4 linked regions of the Homo sapiens genome follow. The protein of the gene in region 1 interacts with the protein of each later gene in a pairwise test. Each region holds a gene or a part of one and is shown in the gene's direction. Other genes may lie near its edges.

The links.
Region 2: the proteins of CCK (region 1) and SPSB1 interact in binary tests that used the Homo sapiens proteins (3 or more experiments, as listed by UniProt).
Region 3: the proteins of CCK (region 1) and NUP54 interact in binary tests that used the Homo sapiens proteins (3 or more experiments, as listed by UniProt).
Region 4: the proteins of CCK (region 1) and ARL6IP4 interact in binary tests that used the Homo sapiens proteins (3 or more experiments, as listed by UniProt).

What each region holds. Positions count from the first base shown.
Region 1 is NC_000003.12:42,257,290-42,263,188, reverse strand, and holds the end of CCK (cholecystokinin preproprotein), read left to right. Parts: intron 1-4,957; coding exon 4,958-5,091; 3' UTR 5,092-5,363; downstream 5,364-5,899. UniProt on the Homo sapiens protein: This peptide hormone induces gall bladder contraction and the release of pancreatic enzymes in the gut. Its function in the brain is not clear.
Region 2 is NC_000001.11:9,295,873-9,302,911, forward strand, and holds part of SPSB1 (SPRY domain-containing SOCS box protein 1), read left to right. Parts: intron 1-7,039. UniProt on the Homo sapiens protein: Substrate recognition component of a SCF-like ECS (Elongin BC-CUL2/5-SOCS-box protein) E3 ubiquitin-protein ligase complex which mediates the ubiquitination and subsequent proteasomal degradation of target proteins.
Region 3 is NC_000004.12:76,114,148-76,117,420, reverse strand, and holds the end of NUP54 (nucleoporin p54), read left to right. Parts: intron 1-1,926; coding exon 1,927-2,055; 3' UTR 2,056-2,757; downstream 2,758-3,273. UniProt on the Homo sapiens protein: Component of the nuclear pore complex, a complex required for the trafficking across the nuclear membrane.
Region 4 is NC_000012.12:122,975,938-122,983,411, forward strand, and holds ARL6IP4 (ADP-ribosylation factor-like protein 6-interacting protein 4), read left to right. Parts: upstream 1-4,743; 5' UTR 4,744-4,808; exon of another isoform or gene 4,809-5,050; intron 5,051-5,191; 5' UTR 5,192-5,202; coding exon 5,203-5,362; intron 5,363-5,633; coding exon 5,634-5,942; intron 5,943-6,019; coding exon 6,020-6,137; intron 6,138-6,531; coding exon 6,532-6,601; intron 6,602-6,682; coding exon 6,683-6,739; 3' UTR 6,740-6,972; downstream 6,973-7,474. Other genes in the region: OGFOD2 (2-oxoglutarate and iron-dependent oxygenase domain-containing protein 2), read left to right, coding at 717-830, 934-1,033, 2,505-2,632, 2,816-3,073, 3,146-3,409.

The sequences.
Region 1 (5,899 bases):
TTGCTGATTAAGTTCAACACCATTTTACCAAGCCATTAAAAGATAATTATTGAAGCCTAGGAAAGGGTTCCTAGATACAGTGAATACCCTCTACTGAAAACGCAAAGGACCTTGGAGCCACCCAGATACCAACCCTTGGAAATCCTCTAGCAGGAAGGGGTCAATGCTGAGAATGCCTGAGATCTGGCTACAACAGTTTAAAAAAGCAGTGACAATGTGTCCATTTCCACCAAAGTATGTAACAGAAGGAAAGAATCAGCAGCAGTTTTGTGTTCTCCTTGCAATGACTTACAAATTATTACCCAACAAGAGAGGTATTTGTTTTTACTTTACTGTTGCAGAGATGGTCACAGTTGTAGCAAGAGCTGAGCAAGTCAGTTTTCTCAGCATCAAAGTCTTTCTCCAGGAATAAGGTGATTCAGCAGCTCACTAGCCGAGTGGCATGCAGGCAATTCTGACCTGAGGCTAGCTTTCCCCTAAGCTCCTTCCAATTCTTTGTGTGATTCAGAGGGAGGCCCATTCATCTCTTGTGACCCATAGGAATCATGCTTTGGATTGGGGCAGCTTTTTTCTGCCAACTTTATCCCCAGTGACACTAATGATGAACACCGGCTGTGGAGCAGTGTGCTGAACAGTACAAACACAGCTGGACATTAAAAGAATTCAGCAGGCCAGGAGCAGTGGCTCACACCTGTAATCCCAGCACTTTGGGGGGCTGAGGCAGGTGGATCACATGAGGTCAGGAGTTCGAGACCAGCCTGACCAACATGGTGAAACCCCATCTCTACTAAAAATACAAAATTAGCTGGGCATGGTGGCACATGCTTGTAATCCCAGCTACACGGGAGGCTGAAGCAGGAGAGTAGCTTGAACTCGGGAGGTGGAGGTTGCAGTGAGCCGAGATTGTGCCATTGCACTCTGGCCTGAGCAACAAGAGTGAAACTGTCTAAAAAAAAAAAAAAAAAAAAAAAGAACTTAGCAAACACTGCTGGAAGGGATGTGGTAGGTGTGTTGCCTTTTCCATGAAGCTCTCTTACCCAACTGGTGTTCCAGGGCCTGGATTTGAACCTTAACCCCTGGCTTGACCAGAGAGGGATAAGATGAAGAGTTTTGGCTCTGCAGAGTTCTTCTGTGGGTTCACATGAAGGGAAGACTGGAACTCTGACCCAGAGGCTTCAGAAGGAAAGAACAAATCAGTGATTTGTTGTATTTCTTCCTGTCTTTGGGAAATTGCCCCACCCACCACCTTGTGTTTTGCTTTCCTGCTAATTAAATTGAAAAAGATAGAAATACTTCTCAGATGGAGAGAGAAAGTCTGAAAGCTTTTGAGTTCCTGCTGATTCTCTGCCTGAAAATAATTTAGTATCTGTCCCCAGATACAGGCTGAATTTCAGCCAGACCAGTCTGAAATATCCTAGGCTTTTCATTTAACTGTGGACCTGGACTCCCCTCCTCCAATTTAGGAAAGACCCTGGTTTTTCTTCTATGTAGGCTGAGGATATCTGCAAAAAGGCCTGAAATGTGCCGAATTGAGTCTTGGTTCCAAAATTGCTCTAGGGAAAAAAAAGAAAAAAAAAAAAGCTCATTACCAAATTATTTCCTAGAACCAATACTAGACAATGGCTCTTATAGCATAAATCTTAGCTGGAAAGTTCTTTCTAGTCCCTCTTCTCAGCCCCCCTCTCCCTTTGCCTTCAGCCAATTGTGCCAAACAAACCCAGGAGGGAATAGCAATCACTTGGAAATTTAGATGCCAACACCTAGGATCAACTCTAGCTAAAAAACAAGCAAACTCTTCTATGTGACAAACATGAACTAGGACTAAATACTTACACATATAGATACTGCACAGTTTCTATATGTGCAGTATATAGAATATTTTACATATTTTGAATATTTTACATATTTTGAGATCATATCAGATTTTTGCTCCACTATAGTATATATTATTCTTAAAAGTTCTAAACAAGACAATGCATTCTTTGAGCAGTACTTAAGAGTTTATCATTAGGAAATATCTGCAGCACTTTCAATGGCCCAAGAAGAAACAATTCTATTGGAGGGCAGTGGGTAAAGATATCTAGAGGCATTTAGTGTGCGCCTCCCCCATGCCCAGCAAAGCTTCAATGCTACATCTATATTGTCTTTCTCAGTACAACAGCCCTGCACAGTGAATATTATTATACCCATTTTGCCAGTGTGGAAGCTGGGGCTCTAAAAGCCTGAGTAACCTACATGCAGTTGCATATCTACGCAACAGCAGGGCTGAGACTCTATCTAGTCCTGCTCCCCCCAGGAGGGCCTGGAAGCCATTCAGCTTCCTAGCTGTACTGCCTATTCCACATTTTAAAGTTTAAAAGAGCTAAACCCTTCAGTTTTAGCAAGAGCTAAGAAAGTCACTGTTTTCTCAGCACCAAAGTCTTTCTCCAGGAATAAGGTGATTCAGCAGCCCACTAGCTGAGTGACATGCAGACAGTCCCGAGGCTAGCTTTCCAATAAGCCCCTTCCAATTCTTTGTGTGATTCAGAGGGAGGCCCGTCCATCTCTTGTGGCCCATAGGAATCAGGCTTTGATCAATTCCATACATCAGATGTAAGCCCCTACTCTATGTCAGCACTGGGAAAGTGAGTGAGGACCCTGGTAAATACACATGACATGAGGACAGAACTGTACGTGGAACGGGGAAGTCAGGGTGTGTGATAAATGCAGCTTCCATGACTGAACATGGTGCCCCCACCGTTAACTGAGGCTGCTTGCTCGTATTGAAGCTGTCACCTTGCTTCCATTAGATGGAAATTTGGGTTGTGCCCAGGCCTTAGAGTGGGCACTCATCATCACAGCAGGCAGAAGGATGGGTCATGTTTCCATGTGACTGTGTACAGGTAACTGGGTCTATAGGTTTTCCTGAATTCAAGGGTAATATTTCACCTGAATGATGAACAATTAAATAGCAGGGGCTATTTTTCTTCTACGTAGGCTGAGGATATCTGCAAAAAGACCTGAAATGTGCTGAATTGACTGTTGGTTCCAAAACTGGGAAGGGTTGGGGTTGGGGAGAGAAAGGGTGGGGACGTTGTTCTGTGTTGTTTCTGTTTTTAATTAAACTTGCTTAATTTCATTACCCAGGGTAACTGCCTTTGCATTTTCATTTATCAACACATAAGCCATAGTCTGACTCTACTCAGCCTATGGGTAGGAGCTGGCAAGGGCAGCCTCATGCAGAAGGGATATAGACCAGCATGACAGGAGGTGGGGATACAGTGGCCCCCAACACAGTGGGAGTCATTGAGTGGTCCTCCACTCCTCTACCCTTGATTTGGCCTGGGCTTTGTCCATTGAAGTCCCTGAAGGGCCTTTCTTAAGACTGAGCTTGCACAGGAGAAGGTGTTCTGCTGATTTCATACCCCAGGAGGCTTCTGTCTATGAACTTTGAGCTAGGACTGTCTCATGTCTCCAAATAAACTGCCTCTTCATGTCCCTGCTCACTCAGTGTGAGCTCTACAAAAGGATCACACTGTTCCTGAAGACTTAACTTCCATCCCAATGGGACAATTTCAGGTTCAGTTATTGCATTTTGGTCAAAATTGCTGATTTAAATCACCTTTGTTATCACCTCTCTCCCCCCCTTCTTTGAGTCTTACTGAGGTGCCAAGATTTAATCCGACAGTCTTTTTCTGAATATCATTTTTAATTGATATTGATTTATCATTAAAAATAAAATGATCATCAACTCAAAACACTTACTGATAAATGACAAAAGCTTTCTGAATATAACTTTCAAATTCATATTTTTAAAAGAGTATTTATGTAGCAAAGGAGCTTTATTTATCTATTTTTTATTATACTTTAAGTTCTGGGGTACATGTGCAGAACATGCAGGTTTGTTACATAGGTATACACATGCCATGGTGGTTTGCTGCACCCATCAACCAGTCATCTACATTAGGTATTTCCCCTAATGCTATCCCTCCCCTAACCCCCACCCCCCGATAGGCCCTGGTGTGTGATGTTCCCCTCCCTGTGTCCATGTATTCTCATTGTTCAACTTCCACTTATGAGTGAGAACATGCGGTGTTTGGTCTTCTGTTCCTGTGTTAGTTTGCTGAGAATGATGGTTTCCAGCTTCATCCATGTCCCTGCAAAGGACATGAACGCATCCTTTTTATGGCTGCATAGTACTCCATGGTGTAAATGTGCCACATTTTCTTTATCCAGTCTATCATTGATGGGCATTTAGATTGGTTCCAAGTCTTTGCTATTGTGAATAGTGCTGCAGTAAACGTACATGTGCATGTGTCTTTATAGCAGAATGGTTTATAATCCTTTGGGTATATACCCAGTAATGGGATTGCTGGGTCATATGGTATTTCTGGTTCTAGATCCTTGAGGGATTGCCACACTGTCTTCCACAATGGTTGAACTAATTTACACTCCCACCAACGATTTTTTTTTAACCATTCCAACATCAAGATATTATAATTGTGCCACCTTAATAACAAGAGCTCTCCAGGAGTCAGGAATGTTGATGGATATTAAGGGATGAATTTAGGAACAATTAAGTACTGGAAAAATCTTTGGTTGGTTTCTGCTGATGCCATCTACAAAAGGAAAACACCCATCTACCAAAAGAAAGCAAACGGTAGGGAGACTAAGGAAAATCTAGGCAAGTCCCCAGACTGCAAGGCTAGAGAAAATGAATCCACCTAAATACTTGCAGAACGCAAAGCACACCCCTAACTTGTAAATATATTGTCCTCTCTCCAGTTACACAGACATTGGTCCTTCTCCTCTCTCAGATTTTGGTCCATCAGTTCCACTACTTTGATAGCTCTTTGATACCTTTAAGGTGGTGTCTGTTATATTGCGTCTGGCTTTTTCCATTGCTCTCCTTCCCAAATTGAACTAGAGATGCTTTTAGATGCAATGTCCCTGTTTCCTTCCTCCCTGCTCCTTGTAGCTCCTTCTGGACGAATGTCCATCGTTAAGAACCTGCAGAACCTGGACCCCAGCCACAGGATAAGTGACCGGGACTACATGGGCTGGATGGATTTTGGCCGTCGCAGTGCCGAGGAGTATGAGTACCCCTCCTAGAGGACCCAGCCGCCATCAGCCCAACGGGAAGCAACCTCCCAACCCAGAGGAGGCAGAATAAGAAAACAATCACACTCATAACTCATTGTCTGTGGAGTTTGACATTGTATGTATCTATTTATTAAGTTCTCAATGTGAAAAATGTGTCTGTAAGATTGTCCAGTGCAACCACACACCTCACCAGAATTGTGCAAATGGAAGACAAAATGTTTTCTTCATCTGTGACTCCTGGTCTGAAAATGTTGTTATGCTATTAAAGTGATTTCATTCTGCCCTGTCGTTCCCTGCGTCTACTGAGGGCAAAGGGCTCCATTTGGTCCTCAGAACATGCAAGGAGGGAAGCCTGATAGATGCTACACTGGGACAAATCCTTGTAGTAGATGTCCCCAGAAAGGGCTTGGGAAATGCAGCTCAGACTTGGAGCTAACTTTGCTACAGGCCAGGTGGACAGTGAAAGGGCCATCTGTGGGCAACTCCAGAGCCCAGCCCTGGCCACCCTGATCCCCGATCTTATTTACCAATCCTACTCCCATCAGGGTTTCCTTGGGGTTCTCTTGGCCTTTAAACAAGTTACAGGCAGTAACTGGCCATGGTTTTGCATACATTTGATCACTCCATGGCTCTGTGGCACAGAAGTTATCATCCTTTCTTTACAGATGAGGAAACAGGCTCTGAAGAGTGAAAGTGACTGCCCCTTATGCCCCAGCTAAGGAGATTCACAGACTGGAGGGCTTAATGTTCCTAGGCTATCGGGACCTTCATCACTCTAGCACTTCTCCAACTGAGTGCACAGGAATCACCCGGGGAA
Region 2 (7,039 bases), on another chromosome or scaffold:
TTTTGGTTCTGAAAAATTTTATCAGACGACAGCACAAGGTCAGGTACAGGTGTGCCTCAGTCTGCCCAGGGGTGTGTTATCCTCTCCCCAGCCCTCAACACTAGATCAGTGAAATCCAGACTCTAAGGGACTTCGATTTTGGACTTTCAGTGAGTGCTCTCCCCTCCCCCAGTTATCTGATAACATCTCCCCCAGTCTAAAGTTCCACTGGCAGCCAGGTGCCCGGCTCTGTGCTACAGAGTGCTTTATGGACGTGACTTTGTTTGAATCCTAAGCATAATAATAGCGGGAAATGGTTTCATGGTTTCACGGTGCGTGCGAGTACTGGCTCTGATCTGAGTCCTTGACGCATTGACTCATGGGCTTCCTGAGGACCCTGAGAAGTGGGTTTTGCCTCCATGTCCATTCTGCTGAGGATTGCAGGTAACTTGGCTAAGGTCTCGCGGCAAGGGAATGGTGGAGCCAAAACTCGAATCCAGACTTGGCACCCAAGCCCTTCACCAGTAAGTTTGTCACCTCCACCACCTGAGCCTTTTCTTCAAGAAGCATGGGCTCATTTTTTTAGTGAAATTTTTTGTTATTATGGAAAATGTCAAACACACCAAAGTTAGAGGCAGAGTATAATGAGCGATCAGGTTTCCTCACCTCGCATGCACACACATACACATACTCACATATGCACATGCATACTTATGCTCACAGAAGATGTGCACATGTGTACACACACATACATATGCACACACATATATGCACACATACACACACACGCTGGATTATTTTGAAGCAAATACAAGATGTCAGGTCATCTGTAGCTTCTTCCTAAGAAGCATTTAAAGGAAGCATCACATCTCAAAGAGGTTGACTGTTACTCTATGCGGGGCAAGAGTCGGGAGATGTACGTCCTTTCTGACTTGGGCTTGAGGCTCCTTCCTTGCTTGGACAAAGGGAGGATGGCAAAACCCAACAGCACATTGGGGGATCTGTCCTGCTGCCAACCCCCTGAAACCTTTGGGAAGCTGCCTGTTTGCTTTGTGTTTTAAAAGTTCTGTTCATTGCCCAACGTTAAAAATAAATGAGTCCAGTGGTCATGAGACAGACCACATCAACAACAGGCTTAGGCTCTCGGGGCCTTTCTTGGAGATGGGGAAGAGAATCCGCCAAGGCACAGCCCAGCCTTGCCTGCCATTGAGGTCCAGACCTTGTGCAATGCAGGCATGGGATTTGTGGCAGGGCTGGGTGTCAGGAGATGTGACTGTGAGAATGGTTTGTCAACAAGCTCTGAATCTGACCTGAAGCTTAGCCTGACCCTCTTGAGTTTACTGCGTAGGCGATGGGTGGAGGAATCCAAGAACCTCTGCCACCCTTGGGCGTCTCTTGGAAAACTAGGGAGGCATTGGGTGATTTGAGCACAAGATGAAGAAAATATCAGGATGCAAACTCCACACTTGAGAAATGACTGCTGAGTAGGAATATAGGATTCCAGGGTTGGAAAAACCTACCTGTGACAAGGGCTTGACGGGTGCCCCAGTTGTGAACACACCTTGCCAGACAGTCAGAGTGTGGCCAATCTGGTCACACCCTTTCCAAGGTCAGAGTGAGGAGCTGCACTCCACACCAAGAGAACCACTTGAGTTTTCTAATTTATACAAGCAGACACCAAGGGAGCATGTGTGGGAGTGGATATTAGGATGTGGAACGAACATGAAGTTGGATCTGGCCGAATTTATGGATATGGGCCCACTAAGCGGAGATTCTGCACTTGATGTTGTAGCTCAGGGGGTTAAGAAGAGATCTGTTTGGTTGGCTGACTGGAACATGGATCAAAGGATGACCCACTGTGAGTAAGTTGGAGTTTCTGGGTCTCCTTTGGTTTAATGTAGAGTTAGGGATTCATAGGCTTAGGTTTCATGTAGAGTTAGGGATTCAAAGGCTTAGGGACATTGGAATGCTGGAGTGGATTTGTCTCTTAAAAGCTACTCACCCACACTGGGAAGGTTCAGAAGACAGATCTTTCACGCATACGTTGAGAAATAGATTTGTGAGGGGGCCCCAGCATCCCTGAAGAGCTCCGTGATCCAGCCCTTACAGTGGGAGCCGCAGTCACTCAAATGGAAAACTTAAATGCAACGGGAGTAATTGCATTTGGAGTGCAGCGGCCAAGTGGCAGTACTCAGCCATCCAAGGCAAGGTGAGTGTGGTTACCTAATGGACGGCAGAGGCAAAGCTGCCGTCAGAATAGTCTGACTTGTGTGGATCTATGGCATTGGATAGTTAATCATGGTGTTCCTAGAAGTGAAATAGACAGGAAACCCGTGAAATTCTTACTTGATCTTATAAGTTACTTGATTCTTTTAAGTTTTCTGTATAAGCAGAAACTTACAGGTCAAATGAAAAAAAGTCTAACTTGAATAATTAAAACAGAAAAATAATTAAAACAGAAAATCACAGCCCTCAATCAACTTCCCAGACTTAACCCAGTTTACACAACTAAGCCCCCATGAATGAATGAATGAGTGAATGAATGAATGAGTGAACGAATGAATGAATAAGTGAACGAATGAATGAATAAGTGAATGAATAAGTGAATGAATGAATGAATGAATTGGAAGCTGGATCCCTTTGAAGAAGGACCTCAGTACACTAGAGAAAGTTTATGCTATTAATTTTTCTCCTAGCCTTCCCCAAAGGGACCTGTGACCTTTTACCAGAGTGAATATGTATTGAGGAAAGGGAAATAATTAGATTGTTCGGGGATAACTGGTTACTGAACTGATACTGATTCCAGGAAACCAAAAATATCACTCACTGTGGCCCACTAGTCAGAGAAGGGGCTTATGGAGGTCAGGTGATCAATGGAGTTTTAGCTTAGGTTTGACTCCTGGTGGCTCCCGTGGATCCCTGAACCCATCCTGGGGTTATTTCCTGGTTCCAGATTCAAAGTTGACATACTTAGCACCTGGCAGAATCCACACACTGGTTCCCTGCCTTGTGCGGTGAGGGCTGTTATGGTGGGAAAGGCCAAGTGGAAACCATTAGCGTTGCCTCTGCCTGGGAAAATAGTACATCAAAAGCAACATTGCATCCCTGGGGTGGGGCTGCCGAGATTAGCACCACCATCAAGGACTTGGAGGAGGCGGGGGTGGTGACCCCCACCACATCCCCATTCAACTCTCCGATTTGGCCTGTGCAGAAGACAGATGGACTTTAGAAACTGATAGTGGATTATTGTAAACTTAACCAAGTGGTGACTGCAAAATTCACACATCTCTGGTCCCTGCTACTGCATGCAGCTGTTGATCTGACGAATGCCCTTCTCTTTATACCTGTCCATAAGGCCCAGCAGAAGCAGTTTGCATCCAGCTGGTAAGGCCGGCAATGCCCCTTGGCGGTCTGGGCTGATGGGTATATCAGCTCTCCAGCCCTATGTCACAGTTTAGTTCACAGTCATCTTGATCACCTTTCCCTTCCACAGATATCATACTGGGGCTGGGCACGGTGGCTCACTCCTGTAATCCTAGCACTTCAGGAGGCCGAGGCAGGAGGATCGCTTGAACTTAGGAGTTTGAGACCAGCCTGGGCAACACAGTGAGACGTCATCTCTCTCTCTCTCTCTCTCTTTTTTTGAGATGGATTTTTTGCTCTTGTTGCCTAGGCTGGAGTGCAATGGTGCAATCTCGGCTCACTGCAACCTCCGCCTCCCGGGTTCAAGCAATTCTCCTGCTTCAGCCTCCTGAGTAGCTGGGATTACAGGCATGCGCCACCACACCCAGCTAATTTTTTGTATTTAGTAGAGACAGGGTTTCACTATGTTGGTCAGGCTGGTCTTGAACTCCTGACACCAAGTGATTCACCCGCCTTGGCCTCCCAAAGTTCTGGGATTACAGGCATGAGCCACTGCGCCCGGGCCGACATCATCTCTATAAATTTTTTTTTTTTTTAAATTAGCCAGGCATGATGGTGTGTGCCTGTGGTCCCAGCTACTTGGGTGGCTGAGGTGGGAGGATCGCTTGAGCCTAGGAGGTCAAGACTTGCAGTGAGCAGTGATTGTGTTACTTTACTCCAACCTGGGCAACAGAGTAAGACCCTGTCTCAAAAAAAAAAAAAAAAAAAGGGTCTCATGCTGGTCCATTACATTGATGTCATCATGCTTCATTGGACCTAGTGAGCAAGAAGTCGCAACCACTGTAGCCTTATTGGTAGGACATTTACATGTCAAGCGATGGGAAATAAATTCTACTGAAATTCGGGGACCTTCTCCCTTAGTGAAATTTCTCGGGGTCCAGTAGTGTCAGGCCTGTGAAGGTATCCCCTCTAAGGTGAAGAATAAGTTGTTACAGCTTTCCTCCTGCAACCAAGAAAGAGGCACAATGCCTCGTGGGCCTGTTTGGACTTTGGAGGCAACACATTCCTCATTTGGGTGTGTTACTCCAGCCCATTTGCTGAGTCACCCTAACGCTTCTAGTTTTGAGTGGGGCCCGTAGCAGAAGACTGCAACAGGTCCAGGTTGCTGTGCAACCTGCTTTGCCACTTGGGCCACCAGCAGATCCAGTGGTGGTTGAGGTCAGCGGCAGACAGGGAGGCTGCTTAAAGCCTTTGGCAGGCCCCTGTAGATGAATCGCAGTACAGGCCTTGGGATTTTGGAGCAAGGCCCTGCCATCATCCACAAATAACTTCATTCCTTTTGAGAGACAGCTCTTGGCCTAATACTGGACCCTAGTAGAGACTTAATGTTTGACCATCAGCCACGAAGTTGCCATGTGACCTGAGCTGCCCATCATGAAGTGGGTGTTATCTATGATCTGACCGACCAAACCAGACATTGGGCATGTGTGGCAGAACGCTGCCATCGAGAGGAAGTGGTATATATGGGATCAGGTCTGAGCAGGTCCTGAAGGCACAAGTAAGTGACATGAGGAAGTGGTCCAAAGGCCCATGGTTCTTACTTTGCCCACTGCCTTCTCTCTCCAGCCTGTATCTATGGTCTCCTGGGGAGTTCCCTCTGATCGATTGACAGTGGAAGAGAAGACTTAGTCAGCCTGGTTTGCAGATGGCTACAGATGGCTCTGCACTATATGAAGGCACAACCCGAAAGTGGACAGCTGCAGCACTATAGCCCCTTGCTGGGACACCTCTGAAGGATGGGGGTGAAGGGAAATCCTCCCTGGCAGAGCTTCGGGCAGTGCACCTGGTTGTGCACCTTGCTTCGAAGGAGAGATGGCCAGATGAGTGATTATATACTGATCCATGGGCTGTGCCTGATGATTTGGCTGGATGGTCAGGGATTTGGGGACTTGGAAAGAGTATGATTGGAAGATTGGTGACAAAGAAAGCTGGGGGCCTGGCATAGTGGCTCACACCTGTAATCCCAGCACTTTGGGAGGCCAAGGTGGGAGGATTGCTTGAGCCCAAGGAGTTCGAGACCAGCCTGAGCAACATAGTGAGACTCCCCGCCCCCGCCATCTCTACAAAAATAAAAAATTAGCTGGGCGTGGTAGCTCATGCCTGCAGTCCCAGCTACTTGGGAGGCTGAGGTGGGAGGATCACTTGAGCCTAGGAGGTTGAGGCTGCAGTGAGCTGTGATTGCTCCAGCCTGGGCAACAGAATGAGACCCTGTATCAAAAAACCCAACCAAACAAAAAAGCAATTGGGGGAAGATGTATGTGGATAGACCTGAGTGCGCACAGGACACGGATAGACCTCCCGAGTGCGCACAGGACATGAGGTATGTGGGTAGGATGACCTAGGTGGATTCTCGTCAGCCTCTTTCCCTGGCCACCCCTGTCATCGCCTGGTGGGCTCAGGAACAAAGTGGTCATGGTGGCAGAGATGGAGGTGATGCATGGGCTCAGCAGCATGGACTGCCACTCACCAAAGCCGACCTGGCTATGGCTACCACTGGCTGCTAGTCTGCCAGAAGCGGAGACTAACACTGAGCTCCAGTATGGCCCCATTCCCCGGGATGATCACTGCACCTGGTGGAAGGCACATTGGACCACTTCTGTTTTGGAAGGGGCAGCGTTTTGTCCTTACTGGAGCAGGCACTTATTCTGGATACAGATTCGTCTTCCCTGCACACAGTGCTTCTGCCAAAGTCACCATCCATTGATTGACAGAACACCTTTCCCACTGTCACGCTGTCCGTGTAGCACTGCTTCCAGGGAGCTCACTTCACAACCAAGGAAGTGTGGCACTGGGATCATGTGCAGGGAATTGGCCGGTGAGCACGAGCCCACTGGTTTCGCCTATCATGCTAAGTGGAACTACGGTCTTGTTATTGCCTTTATTTGGAAATTAAGTATGGTTTAAGAAGATGCCAGTGGGTGCCTATGGGTGCCAGTTGGTAAGGGGTGGACCTGTGATGATTGATTTTGGATGTCAACTTGACTAGATTAAGGAATACCCAGGTAGATGGTAAAGCATTGATTATTCTCTATGCTTCAGTACACACTGAGCCTGTCCCTTTTCTGCTGACAGGGAAGCCCAGTGGTTTGACATTGTGTAGAATGATCGGGCTGCCCCAGATGTGTCTGTGAGGGTGTTTTTGGAGGACACTGGCAATTGAGTCACTCAACTGGGTGGGGAGGATCTGCCCTCCATGTGGGCAGGCACCATCCAGTCAGCCGGGGGCCTGGAAGAAGGGTGAATCCTGGCTCTCTGTCCCGGAGCTGGGATGCTCTTCTCCTGCGCTTGGATGTCAGAACTCCAGGTTCTCTGGCCTTTGGACTCTGGGACTCGTACGAGTGGTCTCCGGAGTCTTTGACCTGGGACTGGGAATGACCACGTTCCCCACCATCCTGAAGCAGCTGACTTGAAAGAAGGGCAGTAGAGTCTTTTGAAGTTGCAATTACAATGCCAGCTAGGTGACAATACTTTGTAGGGCTGGGTCAGGGGTCTTCAAAAGGCTCTATGTACTCTGTATCAGCATCCAATATATGGTGCTGGTTTCTCCCGTAGCCAGGATTCACGGGTCCAGGAATCAAGGGGAGGAAATGGGAGTGGCACTGCGCATCATATCCCCTAGGGACCCGCTAGCGAAATT
Region 3 (3,273 bases), on another chromosome or scaffold:
TACGTTGGAAGCAGGGACTCAAAACATATTTGTACACCCATGTTCATAGCATCTTTATTCACAATAGTCAAAATGTGGAGATAACCCAAGAATCAATCAAAGAATAGAGAAACAAAATGTAGTATATAGACACACAATGGAATATTATTCAGCCTTGAAAAAAGAATGAAATTCTGACACATGCTACAATGCAATTTGACCTTGAAGAAGTTATGCTTCATGAAATAAGCCACTCATAAAAGGGAAATATTTATGATTTCACTTATGAAAAGTACCTAGTAGTCCAATTAATAGAGAGTAGAAAGGTGGTTGCCAGGGTGTGAGGGGAGGAGGGGATGGGAGGAACTTAACTGGTACAGAATTTCAACTTGAGAAGATGAAAAGTTCTAAACAAAGTGGATAGTGTTGATTATTGCACAACAGCATAAATGTACCTAATGCCACTGAACTGTATACTTAAAAATAGTTACAGGCAAAATTTTATGGTATGCCTGTTTTGCCACTGTTTAAAAAAGTGAATTATCCCTCTCCTCGCCAAAAAGATGAATTTAGAGGTAGTAGAGACACTAAAGTTTCCTAGACCTTGCTCCTTAAAGTGTAGGTAGTAGCCGCACCTGGAAGGTCATTAGAAATGCAAAATTTCAGTCCTTACTCCAGACGTACTCAATCTGCATTTTATCAAGATCATAGAATGATTTGTATGCACTTTAAAGTTTGAGAAGCAACTGCTCTAGATAATACCTTCCCTGCCTATATGTCGCATGTAAGTTATAAACATTTGGTTATTGATCTGTCCCCTAAGCTCTCAGGAGATCTGGATGGAGGTAGGTTGAGGTGGCCAGAACCTCCAACCACTTTTCTAGGGTTTTCACATTGTGTGAAAAAGTTGGGAAACACTGCTTTGGCTTATTTTCATTAGTATAAATGCAGATTGGTTTAATGAAAATGAACAGTTGTATCTAAAGAAAATATATGAAGATGATGAACTTTGTGGAACATACTAGGTAGCTAATGACTGTTGGCATGGCCCTGAGGATTTTAGATAAAGATTATAAATGTCATCAACAAATCCAATTTTATTATGTTAGAATGGATATGGCTGGTTTTATGCAACCAAAAACTACTTTGGCTTCCAGGTTCTTGGATATTACACACATAACCAATTATATTCCATTGTTTTAAGTATTTGCAATAAATTAACAGGTTCCAGTATATTGAAATAAATAGTTGTATTAAATAGAGTTGATATATGCAATAAAACTGGGAATAATTTAAACACCTGTCTTTTTTAAAATTATGAGCAGTGTATTGTTTTGGGATTGAATCATGGTTCACCATCTACTTTATGACCTTGGGCAGGTTATTTACCTGTAGTTTCTTTAACTGTCGAGATGATAATGGTACCCCAAAGGGGGCTCAAAAGGATTTTAAATGAGTTAAGTGAGTGAATACCAGTACTGTTAAAACAGCACCTTAACCCATGAGGAGGAGTCTTAAAAAAATGTTAGCATCTGTAGTCATCACCACCATTATCACTATGTACTTTGTACTTCAAAACATGAATATTCTCAGTTTTCAGAATGTTATTTTGCTAGTCATCTATATTTGAATACCTCCTTTGAGTTCTGTTTTATTATCATGCCTTTATCAAAAGTTGGTAAAAGGAATAGCTATCTAAAAAACATTTTTGTTGGAAGATATTGTTCATTATATATTTGTTTGATTTTATTGTTCTTTAGAGTTTGTCTTTCACTGTTAGCAAAAGATGTAGTACAAATGTTTAAATATGCATGCCCTCTATATTTAGAGCACTTACTAGGTACTGTGTTGCTAGTAAAATAGTCAAAGTGGAGTCTTTTTTCCTGTGACTAGCTTGCAGTTTTAAGAAATTAATACATTAATATGTTGTTTCTTAATTTGTTCTAGCATTTGAAACAACAACAGGAAGGCCTTAGCCATTTGATTAGCATCATTAAAGACGATCTAGAAGATATAAAGCTGGTCGAACATGGATTGAATGAAACCATCCACATCAGAGGTGGTGTCTTTAGTTGACAGTTCACAAACTTGTGTAAAGGTTTGTGAAATGCATCTTCTTACTGCATCAGACCTTCCTTAAGAATGAAACCGACCACATGGAGGGAAAAAGAAAACAATTCTTTCTTGGATTGGTTTTTTGAGAAGTTTACTGACAAATTACTGTTCATCAAATCTGAAATAGTCACCTCACAGCTCTTCAAAGAAAACCTTTGAAAGATTTATATCTAAAAGCTGTATTTACTTTAAAAGAAGTGCATAATTACCAAAATTGTATGTACTATTGTACATTTTTACAACAGCATTTTCTTAAACATAATCTGTGTTTAATGATTATTGTCCATTGAGCCTGTACTCTGCTTTCCATACCAAGTAAATATGAAATAATCTACTTTGCACATAACAGAACAAACTATAATTACTTGGCTGTTGGAGATTTGTACTTGAGTATAAATGTACACCAGTTTTTGTATTTGTGAACTCATCTGTGGGAGGAGTAAAGAAAATCCAAAAGCATTTAATGTTTTGTTTTTGTTCTATAAAGATATGAAAATGTATTTTTATATTATTTTACTTATTTGGAATTTACAGAGCACACCTAAGCAATTAGGATATAACAAAACTACTTAACCATTTTTGCAACCATTTTGTTTTTTAAGCCTTTTTATTTCTAAAAAGATGAAAACTTATAAATAAATTCTTAATTTGTAATTACTTTTATATAATTCTGTCTGGTGCTTTATTTGGCTTTTGAGGAATGACCATTTTTTGTCCACATAGGTACTAAATTCATAATCACAAGTCAGGAATTTTAGTCTTAAGTCTTATTTTTGCCTCCTAGGGATTTTTGTCAGTGCTGTTATATTTTGATTAGGGTATGGCAAGTAAAACTTACTTCAGATATCATCTAGTATTAAGAATTCCCTAATATGTCATTAGTATTCGAAATACTAGAAAATCTGAGTTAAACAGATTAAGTAGTGTTAAATAGTGGGTCTTTAACCAGTGGATCATTTTAAACAGTATTTCTGACTACACTATATTTGGGCTGCATCATGTTGGCCGCTTTTGAGATGCTTTAACTTTGCACTTCTCTGTGATGCTTTGGCTTGTATTGACAGGTGTTAGAAGAAACAGGCCCATGAATCTTGCTATTGTATTTACTATGGGGATGGTGAAGAGTGTGATGCACTGTATATCTATCTGGAGTCCATCCTCTGAGAATCCACTGAAGAG
Region 4 (7,474 bases), on another chromosome or scaffold:
AGCCTAGCCTCAGTCCCTGATCCCTGAAGGGTCACTTAGGCCCTCACTTTCCTCCTTCCTGCCCCCCACTCATCCCTCCACACCTGAGTCTTGGCACCAGGAGAGAGAAGGGGAAATGCTAAGTTGCTAAGTTGCCTAGTCATGCCGTTCTTAACAGCTCTGTGAGATAAGCACAAGCACCACTCTCATTTTGGATTGAGAAGCTGAGGCTTAAAGAGGGATCCCTTGCCCAAGCTTTTACAGCAGGAGCAGATGTGATCCCAGCCACAGCTTCCAGGCCCCTGGGCTCCTCACACCTTACCATATACCCCGCAGGCTGCTGCCAGGGCTGCTGCCCCACTCCCTCCTCCTCCTTCCCCTGGAGTCAGTGGTGGGAAGCTTCCCAGGAGAGTCCTCAGCAACCTCTGGAACACAGGACTTGGCCATGACTGTCTCCTGTCCCTGTGTGGGCCCAGATGGTTGAGGTACATCTAGGGGTTCTCATCCCAGCTAGGCTCAGGTTGGGGCAGCCTGAAACAGGATGGGTCCCCTTCTAGAAGTCCCTTTCAGCTAACAGTCTGGAACTTGCAGTTGACCCAGATAGATTCAGGAGTGTAGGCTAGACTTGGCTTCCAGCCTGGGCCCTGTCTGGCGTTCTGGGCTTCAGTTTCTTCATCTGTACAGTGGCCTCAGGAGGATGGGAGGCCCCACCTGGTAACAACCCTGTGCCACCCCAGCTTGAGCAGGAGGTGGAGCGGCGGCAGCGGCTGGGGCAGGAGTCAGCAGCTAGGAAAGCCCTCATCGCGAGTTCCTACCACCCGGCACGGCCTGAGGTCTACGACTCACTGCAGGTACCAGCCAGCCAGAGTGCTTGAAGGCCGGTACTGGAAAGAGGAGGTAGCATCCAGGGCTGGGGGTGCTGCCTGCCCCACAGCTGGTGTGTTTTGCTCCCAGGATGCAGCTCTGGCCCCCGAGTTCCTGGCCGTGACTGAGTACAGCGTGTCCCCAGACGCAGACCTCAAGGGCCTTCTCCAGCGGCTGGAGACAGTATCGGGTGAGGTCCTGGCCCTGAGACCTGGCAGGACCAGGGAATGGCAGCCTGGGAAACCTGGGTGTGGGATGCTGGGGTCCCTCCAGCCACCATCTCTGCCTCCAAAAACCAAACCAGCAGGAGCTGGAAGGGTCAGTGGGACCAACCTGCCAGGAGCAGGACATCCGCATTCATTCATTCAATACCTGCCATGAGCCTGGTATCTTCATTCTTTCCTTCACCCTTCCTTCGTGCCCTCATCCAGCAAATAGTGGATATTTGTGTCATGTGTGGGACAGCTGGCACACTCAAACAGGGCTGATCCAAGATCTTAAAGGGACCATTGAGACAGGTATGGGCAGGATAAAGGGACCAGTAAGGAATGGCAAAGCCCGGCCCCCCAGGGCTGGCAACAGGAGGGAGCAGTTACCACCTGGAGTTGTGGCTCTGGGCGGAGGCCTGCGGCCATGCCAAACTCCAAGTAGGGCAAAAAATGCCCCACTTCTCTTCGGATTTCTTGCTGGGCTCACTTATTGGCTAAACCCAGCAGGAAATGCTGGGCAAGGGAGGTTTGCGTGTTGTTTAACCTCTGATTCAGTTTCCTCATCTGTAAAATGGGAGCAACAGTAACCCCCTCTCTTAAGGCACTGCGACGATCAAGTGAGTTAATCTGCATAGAGTGCCTGTCACAGGGCCCGCACGTAGTGTTTGGAAAGTGTTTCCTATTCTTATTGGCACTGATAGCCTGGGCTAGGGGCTCCTGTGGGAGGCAGATACAAGTTTCCCCTCATGGAGCCTGTGCTTTGTTGGGAGTCATGGGTGGAATGAATCCCCCTCCTCCCAGCCTGGGGGTGCTCTCCTCATTGCCTTCCACTCCCCGGCAGCTGAGATAGTGCTGAGGCTGTTGGCTGGGGCAGGGCCTAGGCTGCGAGGTGGCCCCATCGTGGGCACACTAGCCCTGCACCCCTGGGCATTGGTGCGTCCGCCAAGAAATGTTTAGGTTTCCATTCTCAGCCTGGTTTCTTCCCCCTCAGGGCCCAGCAAGAAAGAACAGCCCCTTCTGGCCTTCCTGCTGGGGGACAGAGGCTCCCAGAGCCACTTCTGAGTTGGGGTACAGACTTCGGTGGCTCATCAGATGAAAGGAGGTGCAGAGAGAGCCTGAAGTTGGCTCTGTGATCCCGACTTGGCTGTCACTGGCCTGCTGGGTGTCCCTGGGCTACTTCCTTCCCCTCTCTGGGCCTCAGGACCCATATGTGAGCTCCCAGGGCCAGCCCTGTGGACACTTGTAGAGTCTGGGGAAAGGTTCCGGGCATAAGTGGGGGGCATGGGAATCGGCCTCCCCTGCTCCTCATGTTACTTCCTTAAGTCATCACAATAGCCCTGAAAAGCAAAGGCCTCATCTCCATGGCACAGGTGATGAAACAGGAAGACTGAAGCCCAGGCCTGGCCGGCCCACGGCCACATTCAGGCCAACAGACCATCCCTCCTTCCACAGAGGAGAAGCGCATCTACCGGGTGCCTGTTTTCACAGCGCCCTTCTGCCAGGCCCTGCTGGAAGAGCTGGAGCACTTCGAGCAATCGGACATGCCTAAGGGGAGGCCCAACACCATGAACAACTACGGGGTGGGTGAGGCCTGGCCGGTGGCAGAGGAGGGGGTGGCTGGGGTCAGGAGGCAGTGTCAGAGGTTCTGCAGATGGGCTGCCTGCCCGGGCTGCGAAAGAAGGTCACAGTGGGATCACCGTGGAGTGGAAGCCCAGGGTTGCAGCCCTCTAGTTTCCTTGCTGACCCCAGGAATCCCCTCCCAGGTGCTGCTGCACGAGCTCGGGCTGGACGAGCCGCTGATGACACCACTGCGGGAGCGCTTCCTGCAGCCGCTGATGGCCCTGCTGTACCCTGACTGTGGCGGGGGCCGGCTCGACAGCCACCGGGCCTTTGTGGTCAAATACGCACCGGGCCAGGACCTGGAGCTGGGCTGCCACTATGATAATGCCGAGCTCACCCTCAATGTGGCCTTGGGCAAGGTCTTCACAGGGGGCGCCCTGTATTTTGGGGGCCTCTTCCAGGTGAGTGTGTGACCCATGCGGCAGGGCCTGGGGCAGCTGTGAGTGCCCAGGCCTGAGTCGTGCCATCTGCAGGCACCCACAGCCCTGACGGAGCCCCTGGAGGTGGAGCACGTGGTGGGCCAGGGTGTCCTCCACCGTGGCGGCCAGCTGCATGGAGCCCGGCCCTTGGGCACTGGTGAGCGTTGGAACCTTGTCGTCTGGCTCCGAGCCTCTGCTGTGCGCAACAGCCTCTGTCCCATGTGCTGCCGTGAGCCCGACCTGGTGGACGATGAGGGCTTCGGTGATGGCTTCACCCGAGAGGAGCCCGCCACGGTGGATGTATGTGCGCTCACCTGAGCTTGCTTGGGCCCAGTGTGGGGGTGGCAGGCAGGTGAGGGCTCCGTTGCCTTGGTCTGGGGGCAGAAATAAAATCCCCGCAGCCTACTGCACTTCTTGGCTCAACGGTGTGCCAGCTTCTGGGTCATTCTATGGGCAAAGATGCTGCCTTAGTTCAGGTTTGTCAGAAGCAGGGTCTGGAATGGGGCTTCAGCGAGGGAGTCAGGGAAGCAGGGGAGGGGAGGGAGCAGCTGGGCAAGGAAGTGGCTTCAGAGGACGTCCAGCCTCAGCTGGCCCCACGGAGAGCTCCAGGCAGAGCCCACAGTACCACAGTGTGCCCACACCACCGGTTACTGGCTCCTGGATGAGGGGGCCAGAGAGGAGTGAATAACTTCCCAGACACTTATCTCCAGGGCAGGGTGCCTTCCAGTAGCCAAGGGAAGCCTCCAGAGAGCACAGATGTGAACCCTCAGCAGCAGGCATCACCCCCCAGTGGACTCGGGTGGGCCACCAGTAGCATCTTCTAGATGGCAGAGGGGTGAATGGCAGGGCCAGGAACCAGGCTGCCCGGGTTCCCATTCTGCTTCTGCCACTTCCAGCTGTGTGGCTTTAGGTGAGCCTTCACCTTTTGGTGCCTTCGTTTCCTCATTTAGCACCTACCTCCTAGAGCTGTTTTGGGAGTCAAATGCGCTGACGTATATAAAGTGCTTTGCAAGATCCCTTTGTGTTTGCGGCTGTCATTGTGGAAGAGTTGCAACTTGGGGGCCCGAGATTGGATGAAGCGCACAGCCACGCTTTGGGTTACACATTTGAAACTCAGGGGGCTTCCATATTGCAGTCTTGAGTTTGGTCTCCCTGGGAAGGTGGGGCACCAGCCCCATGCCACGTTGCACGTATCAGCTGGAGCAGAATCCTGGCTTCCTTCCGGATGGGCCTGGGGTCCATGCCCGCGCTCACTGCCAAGATCTTTCTGGCCCCTACGGACACGAGTTTGCGACCTCTGAGTCACTGGGTGGGCGCGTCGGAAAGACCAGGGCGCCTCAGTCTGGAGCTCGCAGTCGTATGGAGAGGGCAGGACCAGCCGGGGAGGAGGGCGGCGCGCGCGAGGGTCGCCTTCTTCCCAGGGCACCGGGGGCGTGGGTGCTGCGGGCGTGCGCCGAGAGGGCAGCCTTGGAAGTGGGCGCAGCTTCGGCAGACACAGGCGTGAGGGGCTGCGGAGCTCGAGGGCCGGCGCCCCTGCTTGCCTCTGCGGGAGGTGGGCGCGCCCGGGACGGAACCTGGGGCGTCAGAACGAAAGGCAGCGGCGCCGCGCTTCCCAGCCGGCCAGCCTCCCGCGCAGCGCCCCGGCCGGAAGCCTCCTCGCCGCCGCTTCCTCTCGAGAAGGCGCGGGGCGGGCTGTCCGGCCCGCAGGGCGGTCGAGGTGGGAACGGAGCAGCCCCGGGGGCCCCCTTGAGGCGGCGAGGCCGCGAAGGGCGCGGGGCTGGAGGGTAGGAGAGCGCGGGAAAGCGCCCCAGACGCCACTCGCGGCGGACGGCGGCCAGTTCCCAGGGGTTTGGAGCCGGGTGCGCAGGCGTGGGGCCTCCGGGCACGGGGCGGGCCCTTAACAGGCACCGCTGCGGGGACTGGAGTCGGCGGAGAAAACCGGGGTCCCCAGCGCTGGGGGTGGGTGAGGGTCGCTCATTTTCCCGGGACGGTGACGGGTACTGGGCGTCGCCAGGCCCCGGCCCCGCTAGAGCCACCCTTGGAGCCCGCCCGCGGCCGGCCTTGGGGGCTTCGGCTCAAGCGCGTCTTCTTCGTCGCCAGCCCGCGGCGCCATGGCTCACGTCGGCTCCCGCAAGCGCTCGAGGAGTCGCAGCCGGTCCCGGGGACGGGGGTCGGAAAAGAGAAAGAAGAAGAGCAGGAAAGACACCTCGAGGAACTGCTCGGCCTCCACATCCCAAGGTCGCAAGGCCAGCACGGCCCCTGGGGCGGAGGGTGAGGACCACAGGCATCGGGGAGAGGAGGCGCAGTTACTACCCGGGGAAGTCGGGCGAGCAGTGGTCGGGGACGCTCAGTCATGCCTCTGTGCAGCCGGGCCTGAGATGTGAGGGCCAGGCGCCGCAGGAGCCAGGAAGGGGCTCCTCTGGGAAGCTCCATCTCTGTTCTGGAAAGCCCCTCAGGAAGCGCTCACCCTGTAGCCGGTCTGTGCCTGCCCCAGGCCAGAGCAGGGGACGAAGGTTTACCTCTTCCCCTCCTGGCCTTCCAGCCTCACCTTCTCCCTGCATCACAGAGAGAAGCAAGCAGAAGGCCCGGAGGAGAACAAGATCCAGCTCCTCCTCCTCTTCTTCCAGTTCTTCTAGCTCCTCTTCTTCCTCCTCGTCCTCCTCCTCTTCCTCCAGTGATGGCCGGAAGAAGCGGGGGAAGTACAAGGACAAGAGGAGGAAGAAGAAGAAGAAGAGGAAGAAGCTGAAGAAGAAGGGCAAGGAGAAGGCGGAAGCACAGCAGGTGGAGGCTCTGCCGGGCCCCTCGCTGGACCAGTGGCACCGATCAGCTGGGGAGGAAGAGGATGGCCCAGGTACTGTGCTGCCCAGCACCTGAGAGGGAGAAGGTCGCTTCCCAAGGCCTGGCCACCACCTCCGTCTTCCCTTCCAGTCCTGACGGATGAGCAGAAGTCCCGAATCCAGGCCATGAAGCCCATGACCAAGGAGGAGTGGGATGCCCGGCAGAGCATCATCCGCAAGGTGGTGGACCCTGAGACGGGGCGCACCAGGTGGGGAGCTTTCGGCCTGACTTACACCACAGGATCTGGGAGTGTTGGCTGAAGATGTGTGCTCTCGGGAGGAGTGGGGCCGGGCGGGGTTCCTGGTGCCTGAAAAAGGCCAAATGTGGGCAAAAATACGGTCACTTGGAGTAAGTAGTTGCAGGGGCTGGAAGGGCCTGGAGGAGGCTCTTGAAAGGGCTGTTGTTGGCCGGGCTGAGGCTGGCAAGGCAGAGCCCAGCTCCACTGCCTTCATCAGGGAGAGTGGGTGAGGCCCCAGGGTCTGTCCACTCAAGGCTGCGGGGTGGGAGCCCTGGGACCCCTCTGCCGGCTGCTTGTGGTTCTGCTCCTCTGGCATTAGGGGACCTGCCTATTCCTTGCTGAACGGAGACCCTCCCACCCCCAGGCTTATTAAGGGAGATGGCGAGGTCCTAGAGGAAATCGTAACCAAAGAACGACACAGAGAGATCAACAAGGTGGGTGTGGCCCCTCTGCCTGCCATCCGCCCCCAGCTCTGTTTGTGATGTACCCCTCCTCCTGTGTGCTTTCTTCCCCAGCAAGCCACCCGAGGGGACTGCCTGGCCTTCCAGATGCGAGCTGGGTTGCTTCCCTGAGGGCCCCCGCTGGCCAAGGCCTGTGGACGACGCTGGCGGCCCAGCCTGGGCAGGTTTCAGGGTGCCAGTGGGAAGCCTGATGGGTGCTGGTGGCCTTTCCCCCGTGGATTGGTCTCTGGCCCAGCCCAGTCTCTTCTCAGGGGCAGGGGGTGGAGGTTGGGGTCACCGGCCTGCTTGGCACCCCCATCTGAAAGAGCAGCACTTCTCAGCTATTAAAGGCCCCCTGGATAGACTTTCTCTGTTCTGTGGCTTTTTGTGCTGAGTGGGAGGGAAGGGTGCTACATGACTGCCAGGGAAAAACAAGGGCTCCGGGAGCTTTTGGGCAAAGCTGGGGTGTCCTCTGGTGGTCGTGAGCACAGGCCACACCAGCGCCTGTGCCTTCCTCTTCAGGTCAGCCTGCCTGGACCAGACCTCATGCCAGCTGAACCCCAAACCCAGAGAGCTGGCTCTGAAATGCCATGCACTCAGGCATGGAGAGAGTCGGCTTCCCCTGCCATGTTCATTCCACAGATCGCAGCAGTGCAGAGCCAGGTGCTGGGGCTGGGTGGCCTGTGTGGCAGGTCTGGCTCTCACTGCCCAGCTGTGTCTTCCACTCTGAGGCAGGGAGGCTCACAGCACCCGTTTCACTGAGGTCTGTGAGGGCAAACTGAGTTCCATCCCAGGAAGGAGCTAGAAGCAGGCTAGGCCTAGAGTCAGCCCCGCACTCACGTGTTGGCGTCACTGTGAGTGTCACTA